Linked DNA regions of Homo sapiens: region 1 is linked to region 2. The links come from fine-mapping of genetic effects on gene expression. A gene starts in region 2. The other region holds a variant in brackets. All regions are shown on one strand. Distances are between the middles of the regions. Region 1 has its middle 11 kb from the start of HS3ST6. Region 2 holds the start of MEIOB (meiosis specific with OB-fold).

What was found. PIP is the estimated chance that this variant, and not a neighbour inherited with it, causes the effect.
Region 1: its variant is fine-mapped to the expression of MEIOB in caudate (GTEx, PIP above 0.99).

Annotation. Positions count from the first base shown.
Region 1 is chr16:1,927,011-1,932,380 of GRCh38, reverse strand. No RefSeq gene overlaps it. Among named protein-coding and RNA genes, the nearest start is that of HS3ST6, 11 kb to the right of the region's middle. The variant G/C (reference allele first, on the strand shown) is at 2,527.
Region 2 is chr16:1,869,785-1,875,154 of GRCh38, reverse strand. It overlaps MEIOB (meiosis specific with OB-fold), which reads left to right and starts at 2,991. Exons shown (of 14, transcript NM_001163560.3): 1 at 2,991-3,162.

The DNA of each region.
Region 1 (5,370 bases), 57 kb before region 2:
GGGCAGCAGGCTTCCCAGGCACAGGGCCAGGCAGGGGCCTGGGCTGTGCTGCCTTCTCCCAGCACTCCCAGCTCTGCACCTGGGGCCAGTGTTTCCCCGAGAGTGGACTCAGGCCCAAGAGCAGACTGGCCTTCGCCTGCAAACTGGGCCCCTGTGTGCAGGGTTTTGTCCCCAGGGCTGTCTACCAGGCTCAGGCCGGTAGCTGGGTGGCTGGAGGCCTGCTGGCGCCTGGGGATCTCAGCCACAGCAGTGCAGGGGTGGTGATCCTGGTGGGGGCTGGGGAGTAGTGCCTCCTGCCTGCATCCCAGGGCCCCAGGCTCATCCAAACATCCATGTTAAGGTGGTGGGCCGGACACAGTGGCTCACGCCTGTAATCCCAGCACTTTGGGAGGCCGAGGCAGGTGGATCACCTGAGGTTATGAGTTCTAGACCAGCCTGACCAACATGGAGAAACCCCATCTCTACTAAAATACAGAATTACCCGGATTACCCGGGCGTGGTGACCCATGCCTGTAATCCCAGCTGAAGGGGAGGACTGCCCCTCCACACCTGTGGGTATTTCCAGTCGGGTGGGACGAGAGACTGAGAAAAGAAATAAGACACAGAGACAAAGTATAGAGAAACAACAGTGGGCCCAGGGGACCGGCGCTCAGCATACTAAGGACCTGCACTGGCACCGGTCTCTGAGTTCCCTCAGTTTTTATTGATTATTATTTTCGTTATTTCAGTAAAAAGGAATGTAGTAGGAGAGCAGGATGATCATAAGGAGAAGGTCAGCAAAAAACATGTGAACAAAAGAATCTATATCATAATTAAGTTCAAGGGAAGGTACTATGCCTGGATGTGCACGTAGGCCAGATTTATGTTTCTCTCCACCCAAACATCTCAGCAGAGTAAAGAATAACAAGGCAGCATTACTGCAAACATGTCTCACCTCCCACCATAGGGTGGTTTTTCTCCTATCTCAGAACTGAACAAATGTACAATTGGGTTTTATACCGAGACATTCAGTTCCCAGGGGCAGGCAGGAGACAGTGGCCTTCCTCTATCTCAACTACAAGAGGCTTTCCTCTTTGACTAATCCACCTCAGCACAGACCCTTTACAGGTGTCGGGCTCGGGGACGGTCAGGTCTTTCTCATACCACGAGGCCATATTTCAGACTATCACATGGGGAGAAACCTTGGACAATACCCTGCTTTCAAGGGCAGAGGTCCCTGCAGCTTTCCACAGTGCATTGTGCCCCTGGTTTATTGAGACTGGAGAATGGCAATGACTTTTACCAAGTATACTGCTTGTAAGCATTTTGTTAACAAGGCACGTCCTGCACAGCCCTACATCCCTTAAACCTTGATTTCATACAGCACATGTTTTTGTGAGCTCCAGATTGGATCAAAGTGGTTGGGTCAAAGTGGCTGGGGCAAAGCTACAAATTAACAACATCTCAGCAAAGCAATTATTTAAAGTACAGGTCTTTTTCAAATGGAGTCTCTTATGTCTTCCCTTTCTACATAGACACAGTAACAGTCTGATCTCTCTTTCTTTTCCCTACACCAGCTACTCGGGAGGCTGAGGCAGGAGAATCGCTTGAACCTGGGAGGCTCAGGCTCAGCCTGGGAGGCTGAGGCTCAGGGAGGTTGTGGTGAGCCGAGATGACACCATTGTACTCCAGCCTGGGCAACAAGAGCAAATCTCCGTCTCAGGAAAAAAAAAAAAAAAAAGATGTGGTAGGGAGGTGGGGGTGGGAGGGGGCAAGTGGGCTCAGGAGGTGGGGGGGGTGCCGGCAAGCAGACTGCTTGAGTGGGGAGACGGGTGAACCGCAGGACCCCAAGGCCCCCTCACATTGAGAGTCCAGGGAGGGATGGCTGTGGGCAAGGTCTGTATGCCAGGTCACCGGAGGAGGGGGTGGTGTTTCCAGCAATGGAGCGTCTGGTGTGGAATCAGTCACCTTACCCTCCCGCTCCTGCTGGGTGATACCCCATCCTTGCGGCTGCCCCCGCGTCTTCCTTGAGGAACAGCAGACTCTGAGGGGGCAGCCCCTTCCTCCCCAGGGCACGGCCTTGCCCCTCAAGGGTTGGGTTCAGGGGCAGCGGGCAGGCCTGGGCACGGCTGGGCCGTCACCTCGGGCGAGGGATGGGGAATAAAAAGGAACTCTGTCTGAGACACCGTGATCCCTCGCCGGGGCCCAGGCCTGGCTCAGAGCAGCCACCAGGAAGCGTCTGCGGCCCGTATGGGGGAACAGACCATACTTCAGACCCTTGCTCAACCACCGCTTTCCGCTCTCTCAGTGGCAGGTGCCGCGCAGAGCCTGGCCCTGGTGGGGCTGTGGCCCCTGGTGGGGGTGGGGGCCGTGGGCAGCTCCCGGGAGGCTCCTACCCGCGGACGGGTCGGCAGGTGGGAGGAGGGGGCGTCCGGTAGGGTCGGCGAAGGCGCCGAGGCCACGTGCAAGCCCCGGCCCTCGAGGCGGCCTCCCGGGCCCGGGCGCGGGACCGTGCGCAGGACTGACCAGCAGGGGGCACGCTCGCTC[G/C]GTGCTGCCAGGCCGGGTGGTCTGCGTGCGCAGGCGCGGCGGGGGGCCTGACGGCGCTGCAGTTCCCCGGGTGGCCGCGGGGGTTGCGGCGGAGGCAGCGAGCGTCCGCGCAGAGAAACCGCCTCGGCCACGCCCGCCCTTGGGCCGGTGCTGGGGACCCAGGCCGAGGCCTCTGGTCGTCTGAGGGTGCCAGGGGCAGCTGCAGGGGGTTTGCCGGGCTTCACGAAGTGACCGCTACAGGGAGTGCAGTCGCAGCCACGGGTGCCCCTTCCAGGGTCACCGGAGGACAGAGCCAGGGGCGGGGGCGGGGGTGGCGCGGCCGGTGGGAACGGCAGGCGTGGTTGGGGGCGCGGGTGGAGGCAGGACGCCCCCAGCCCCTTCTTCAGGGCAGCTGCGTGGGACCCAGGCTGCCCGGACCTGGCCCGCCCTCAGGGCTAGATCCTAGGGTTCCACATCCCAGGCCTCTTTCCTCCGCCCACCTCTCCCCGCTACAACCCAGGCAGCTCCTGGCTGCCTTCCCCCAACCAGAGTCCTCTCTGCAAAATAATAACCAGACCAGGTCCCTCCCTCAGAGGTTCCCACAGTCCTTGCCTGCTCTGACCTAGGCTGACCCCACCTCTCCAGCTTGATTTCCTACTCCATAAATGAGATCGGTGTTGTTTATCATAATTACAGTTTGGGGTTGTTTCTTTTTTTTTTTTTTTTTGAGACGGAGTCTGGCACTGCCGCCCAGGCTGGAGTGCAGTGGCGCGATCTCGGCTCACTGCAAGCTCCGCCTCCCGGGTTCACGCCATTCTCGTGCCTCAGCCTCCCGAGTAGCTGGGACTACAGGCGCCCACCACTGCGCCCGGCTAATTTTTTTGTATTTTTGGTAGAGCCGGGGTTTCACTGTGTTAGCCAGGATGGTCTCGATCTCCTGACCTCATGATCCGCCCAGCAGGGCCTCCCAAAGTGCTGGGATTACAGGCATGAGCTACCGCGCCGGGCCTGGTTGTTTCTTCTTGAGAAGGGGGTTTCTCTGTTGCCTGGGCTGGAGTGCAGTGGCATGACCATGGATCACTGCAGCCTTGAATTCCTGGACTCAAGCGATCCTCCCAGGTCAACCTCCCGAATAGCTAGGACTACAGGTGTGCTACTACGCCCCGCTAATTTTTGTATTTTTAGTAGAGACAGGGTTTTGCCATGTTGTCCAGGCTAGTCTGGAACGCCTGGGCTCAAGTGACACTCCCGCTTTGGTCTCCCAAAGTGCTGGGATTACAGGCATGAGCCACTGTGCCTGGCTAATTTTTTAAAAAAACTTTTTGTAGAGACGTGCTCTGGCTTTGTTGCCCAGGCTGATCTTGAATTCCTGGGCTCAAGGGATCCCCCACCTCGGCTTCCCAGAATGCTGGGATTATAGGTGTGAGCTCCTCAGCCCAGTCAATTATGTTGTTGTTACTGCCCGCATCACCTGAACCCAAACCCTTTCACCTGCACCTCCAGGCAAACCAGACCCCACTCTAGAAACACATCCTTGCATTCCTAGAGTTTGTTTTTCCTTCTTCTGTTTTGTCCTTCCACACGCATCACAACCCTTCTAGAAGCTTTTCTTGGGGGCTCTGCCCCAGTGGTCCTCTCCTTCCCCCACAGCAGGGGCCTGGGTGGGCCTCCTCTGTGCATGCAGACTGGGCCCCTGTTACCCTCTTGCAGGCCTCACCCATCCTAGGTCAAGGAGCTCCTCAAAGCCATCAACCACAGCACCTTCATCTCATTCTCTCTCTCTCTTTTTTTTTTTGAGATGGAGTCTTGCTCTGTCGCCCAGGCTGGAGTGCAGTGGCACAATCTCGGCTCACTGCAACCTCCGCCTCCCAGATTCAAGCGATTCTCCTGCCTCAGCCTCCTGAGTAGCTGGGATTACAGGCGCGCGCCATCACGCCGGCTAATTTTTGTATTTTTAGTAGAGAGGGGGTTTCACCATGTTCGCCAGGATGGTCTTGGTCTCTTGACCTCGTGATCTGCCTGCCTTGGCCTCCCAAAGTGCTGGGATTACAGGCGTGAGCCACCATGCCCAGTCTTTTTTTTTTTTTTTTTTTTTTGAGATGGAGTCTTGCTCTTTTGCCCAGGCTGGAGTACAGTGGCACAATCTCGGCTCACTGCAACCTGTGCCTCCCCCGGGTTCAAGTGATTCTTCTGCCTCAGCATCTCGAGTAGCTGGGACTACAGGCATGCACCACTACATCCAGCTAATTTTTTTTTTTTTGTATTTTTATCAGAGATGGGGTTCGCCATGTTGACCAGGCTGGTCTTGAACTCCTGACCTTAGGTGATCCGCCTGCCTCAGCCTCCCAAAGTACTGGGATTACAGGCATGAGCCTCCACACTCAGCCCCAAATATATTTTAAGTGTCTCCTTTTCTCTATCACCAATGCCACCTCCCCAGCCCAAGGCTCAGTCATTCCTCACCTTCAGTACTGTGATAACCTGGTTTAGAACCTAGTTGATTCGGGCCAGGCGCAGTAGTTCGGTCTCCCAAAGTGCTGGGATTACAGGCGTGAGCCACCATGTCTGGCCCTCATTCTGTTTCTTAAATGCTGAGCCCTCGGGGTGCTGCGTACGGCAGCAGCAGATGAAGAAATGTTCACCCACTCACACCACCTGCTCCGTACTCCCCTTCAGGGTTGCACAATCTTGGGAGGGGTGCCAGATGTGTACCCCACATCTACATGGATGTGTTGGCGGTCTGGGGAATGCAGGGTCCTCAAGCCACCTATCACCCTCTCCAGGGCCTGGGCACTAAGGCTGTGGTTAACAGAGCTTGGGGTAAGAAGCCCTGGGAAGAAGGTTGGTGGGGCTTCAGTGACAGAG
Region 2 (5,370 bases):
TTAGAACGTGTAAAGTTTATGACTATATATTTTGCCTGTCACTCCTTTGTGACAGCTCCTAGATGTTTTGACAGCTGGCATGCTCTGGGGAGCTGACCATGTAGCCAACTACCGTTTCTTTAGCCAGACATGTGAGCTATTTCAGCTCTGACCCTTGTTCGCTCACCCTTGACTTCTGCATCAAGCGGCAAGGGCAAGCTAGCATTTCTAGTCCTTATTTCTGTTCGTGTACATCCAAAATATATTGACAAGTCAATCCTATTGTTAAGAGCAAGCCAATTTCACAGAACTGCTATAAAAAATGGAAGAAACAAATTCCGTACACAACAAGGGAGACTTAATTTCACGAGCGTGAAGCAATTCCACTCTTTTAGGCTTGTATTTTGAAGCATCGTGGCTTATGAGAAGCCTGTTGTGTCCTGGCAAGGCTGACACTGTTTGCTTAACCTTATGTAGCTTTCTGCAAAAATTAATTTACTAAAACGTGACAAAATTTAAAAAATTTTAGAATATTATTGCTTCACTGAGGCTCAAATGAAAAATGCATGAAAACTATTTTTATATTTTTTCCTCTCCTTTAAGATGGACTTAAAATGCTAGTTTATTTTATTTTGTTATTTTGTGTTTTTTTTTTTGAGACAGAGTCTCTCTCTGTTGCCCAGGCTGGAGTGCAGTGGCCCGATCTTGGTTCAATGCAACCTCCACCTCCTGGGTTCAAGCAATTCTCCTGCCTCAGCCTCCCGAGTAGCTGGGACTAAAGGCGCATGCCACCACGCCTGGCTAATTTTTTGTGTTTTAGTAGAGATGGGGTTTCACCGTGTTGCCCAGGCTGGTGGCCAACTCCTGAGCTCAGGCAATCCGCCCACCTTGGCCTCCCAAAGTGCTGGGATTACAGACGTGAGCCACTGCCCCCGGCCACTAGTTTATTCTTTTGGAAAGATAAAGATAGGTTTTTTTTTTTTGTTTTTTTTTTTTTTTTTTTTTTGAGATGGAGTCTCCATCTGTCACCCAGGCTGGAGTGCAGTGGCGTAATCTTGGCTCACTGCAACCTTTGCCTCCCAGGTTTAAGCGATTCTCCTGCCTCAGCCTCCCGAGTAGCTGGGATTACAGGCTCCCGCCACCATGCCTGGCTAATTTTTGTATTTTTAGTAGAGATGGGGTTTCACCACGTTGGGCCAGTCTGGCCTCGAACGCCTGAGCTCAGGCAATCTGCCCTCCTCAGCCTCCCAAAGTGCTGGGATTACAGGCATGAGCTACCAACCCCGGCCAAAAATATCTTCTTTTAAAGGCAGAGACTGGAAAGGAATAGGGACGATTTAAAAACCCAACTCTTCCCATTATATTTGAAATGGTGAAATGCAGGTACTTTATTTTGCTTCCCAGTATTATTTGGGAAATTAAAAAAAAATGAGGAAAAGAAAAACTGTATTTTAATAATAACATAAAACTTGGTTCTACAGTGGTATTTTTCTTTTATAATATGTGTGTGTTATATGCACCAAAGTTGTTCTTCTCTTTTTAAAGAGAAACTTAAATAATGCTACATGTGGACAGTAGTAGGTGACAAATTTAATGGACTTAGTTTTTGGATCTTACTTGCCCTGGGTTGGTACTCTGTTAACAAAAATTAGTATAAGTCATTAAACTAAAAAGATTTCTAAATGGAAGTAATTAAAAACATGAAGAGCTGAGAAAATTTTTGTCAGATTCACCTAAGTCCAATCCTTAGCACATCTAATTATATATATATTTTTCATACATAGATATACACATCTAGGGTTTTTTCTTTCTTTTTCTTTTTTCTTTTCTTTTGAGACGGAGTCTCGCTCTGTCACCCAGGCTGGAGTGCAGTGGCGCGGTCTCAGCTCACTGCCAGCTCCGCCTCCCGGGTTCACGCCATTCTCCTGCCTCAGCCTCCGGAGTAGCTGCGACTACAGGCACCCGCCACCACGCCCGGCTAATTTTTTGTATTTTTAGTAGAGATGGGGTTTCATCTTGTTAGTCAGGATGGTCTCCATCTCCTGACCTCGTGATCCGCCCGCCTCGGCCTCCCAAAGTGCTGGGATTACAGGCGTGAGCCACCGCGCCCAGCCCATCTATGGGTATTTTCTTGATGTACTACATGCCAAATCTATCATTAGATGTAGATATATTAATTAATTAATTAATTAATTAATTTTGTAGAGACAGGGTCTTACTCTTGCCCAGGCTGGAGTGCAGTAGCGCCATCATAGCTCACCACAGCCTTGAACTCCTGGGCTCAAGCGATTCTCCCCCCTCAGCTTCCCCAGTAGCTGGGACTACAGGCATGCATCGTCGTGCCTGGCTCATTTTTTCTTTTTTTTTTTTTTTGGAGACAGAGTCTCACTCTGTTGCCCAGGCTGGAGTGCAGTAGTACAGTCTCGGCTCACTGCAACCTTCCTCTCCTGGGTTCAAGCGACCTCTCCCGGGTTCAAGCGATTTTCATACCTCAGCCTCCTGAGTAGCTGGGACTACTCGGGTGGGCGGGCGGCGCCACAAGACAACCAGGCACTCACCACCACGCCTGGCTAATTTCTTTCGTATTTTTAGTAAAGACGGGGTTTCACCATGTTGGCCAGGCTGGTCTTGAACTCCTGAGCTCAGGTGATCCGCCCGTCTCTGCCTCCCAAAGTGCTGGGATTACACGCGTGAGCCACCGCGCCCGCCCTTCATAATATTATAGATAGAGAGATATGTTTATTTTTTTCCGGCGCACCGTCTTTTGGAATCCAGCGACCACAGAGCCACACGCGGCTGTGAGAGCGCACGGAGACCCCTCCCCGCGCCTGCGGCTGTCTTGTCCCTCTAACTCCCAAGAAGGAGGAAACGGGAACCGGGCTCCCCTCCCCTCCCCCGAGGGCTGAGTCTGAGCGCGTTGGGGGCGGAGCCAGTGAGCGGTGGGGGCGGAGCCAGTGAGCGGTGGGGGCGGAGTCAGTGAGCGGTGGGGGCGGAGTCGCTGAGGACGGGGCGGGGCCTCGCGCTAACGGTCGCGCGGCCGTCGCACCTGCACGAGGCTGTGGCCCGAGCGTCCTGTGGAGAAGCCGCGAAGCGCGGGCGACCCGGGGGTCGGGCGGGCCAGGTCCGCGAGGCCGCGGCGGCAGCTGTGCAGGCCCGGGGAGCAGCCGGCCGGGCGAGCCTCGGGTAAGCAGCGGCGTGGACGGCCAGGTGGCGACGCGGGCCAGGCCTCCAGCTGTGGGGCGGCGTCCGAGGAAGGGAGCCCGCGCGGGTCAGGGCCCGGCTCCTCCTCCCTGGTTCAAGGATTCCCCTGCCTCAGCCTCCCGAGTAGCAGGGATTAGAGGCGTGCGCCACCATACCTGGCTAATTTTTTTTGTATTTTTAGTATAGACGGGGTTTCACCATGTTGGCCAAGCTGGTCTCAAATTCCTGACCTCGCGATCTGCCCACCTCAGGTGCAACCCCATCTCTACAAAAAATACAAAAATTAGCCAGGTGTGGTAGCAGGCTTCTGTAATCCCAGCTACTGTGGAGGCTGAACCAGGAGACTCGCTAGAACCCGGGAGGTGGAGGTTGCAGTGAACCAAGATCGCACCATTGCACTCCGGTCTGGGCAACAGAGCAAGACTCTGTCAAAAAAAAAAAAAAAAAAAAAAAAAGGGCCGGGCGCGGTGGCTCAAGCCTGTAATCCCAGCACTTTGGGAGGCCGAGGCGGGTGGATCACGAGGTCAGGAGATCGAGACCATCCTGGCTAACACGGTGAAACCCCGTCTCTACTAAAAATACAAAAAATTAGCCAGGCGTGGCGGCGAGTGCCTGTAGTCCCAGCTACTCGGGAGGCTGAGGCAGGAGAATGGCGTGAACCCGGGAGGCGGAGCTTGTAGTGAGCCGAGATTGCGCCACTGCGCTCCAGCCTGGGCGACAGAGCAAGACTCTGTCTCAAAAAACAAAACAAAACAAAATTGTAGGGTAAAAGAGACAGTAGTTGTTGAATGAAGTCATCTCTGAATTCTCAGATTGAGCTCTTTAGTTCATGTTAATTTTGTATCTGTTAAAGTGACCAGGTAGAGAAGCAAGTCATATTTTTTGTGGGCAGACACTAACGTCTATTACCATATACCTCTAACGGTAGCAGACAAATAAGGGAATTCAGAGAGATAATAGGATACCATGTCCCACCAAGAGATGCTAAGGGGTAAAAATGTGGAGAAATCCCTTGGTGTGTAGGTAGTTGTGTTTGTACAGAATATTCAGCCACTGAGTCAAATGTCTGACTCATCCTCTCGACTCACATGTCTGGCACTTTGGGCTGTAAATAAATATTAGTTGAATGGTTGAATGAGTGAATGAATTTGTCACAGTTCGGCAAGTGTTTTAGATAGTGACACTGCATTGTGAGCCACATCAGACCAGGCCAAAGAACGAATGAAAAACTTGACACAGCTTAATTCCCAAATGTTTCTTCTGGCACTGAAAGGCCTTGAATACAAAAACTGGTACATTGGATAATATTGACAAGCAGGGCCATCATTGACTGTGAGCCTGTGAACATCGAGGCATCTTGTATACACTGTTTCTACTTTTCACTGCCAGGTGGATGTTATCCACAATTTAAGGATGAGGAAATTAATGTTTAGTAATGTTAAAACACACGACTACAAACTAGTGGTGTTGCAATTCAAAATCATATTTGACTAACTCCACAGGCTGCCTGAAATTCAGGTGTCATGAGACACGTCCTTGAACTGGAGCGGGTGGGTGTGGGCATTCCCAGAGTTAAAGAGGCCCTGGATTATAAAGTGAAGTCAATCTGTTTGGTGTAGCTTACAATTTTTCTACAATAGAACCTTTTAGAGTGATGATGTTGAGGGACAAACCACCATTTCGTTCATCTGATATTTATGGTTTTCAGTTATGAAATACATACATAAAAATACGTAAGATGCCACCTCTGCCCTCATGTAGTTTTACTATGTAGAGGTGTGTTTAAAATCAATAATTTTCCCGGGCTGGGCTCAGTGGCTCACGCCTGTAATCCCAGCACTTTGGGAGGCTGATGCGGGTGGATCATCAGGTCAGGAGATCGAGACCATCCTGGCTAACACAGTGAAACCCCATCTCTACTAAAAATACAAAAAAATTAGCTGGGTGAGGTGACACATGCCTGTAGTCCCAGCTACTCGGGAGGCTGAGGCAGGAGAATCGCTTGAACCTGGGAGGTAGAGGTTGCAGTGAGCTGAGATCGTGCCACTGCACTCCATCCTGGGCGACAGAGCGAGACTCCGTCTCAAAAAAAAAAAAATCACTACCTTTCCCTTCACACAGTATAATCAAATGCTCAATATGAGGTGTTTACGTAGATTTTTGCTGTATTTTTTGAGGTAAGCTTGATGC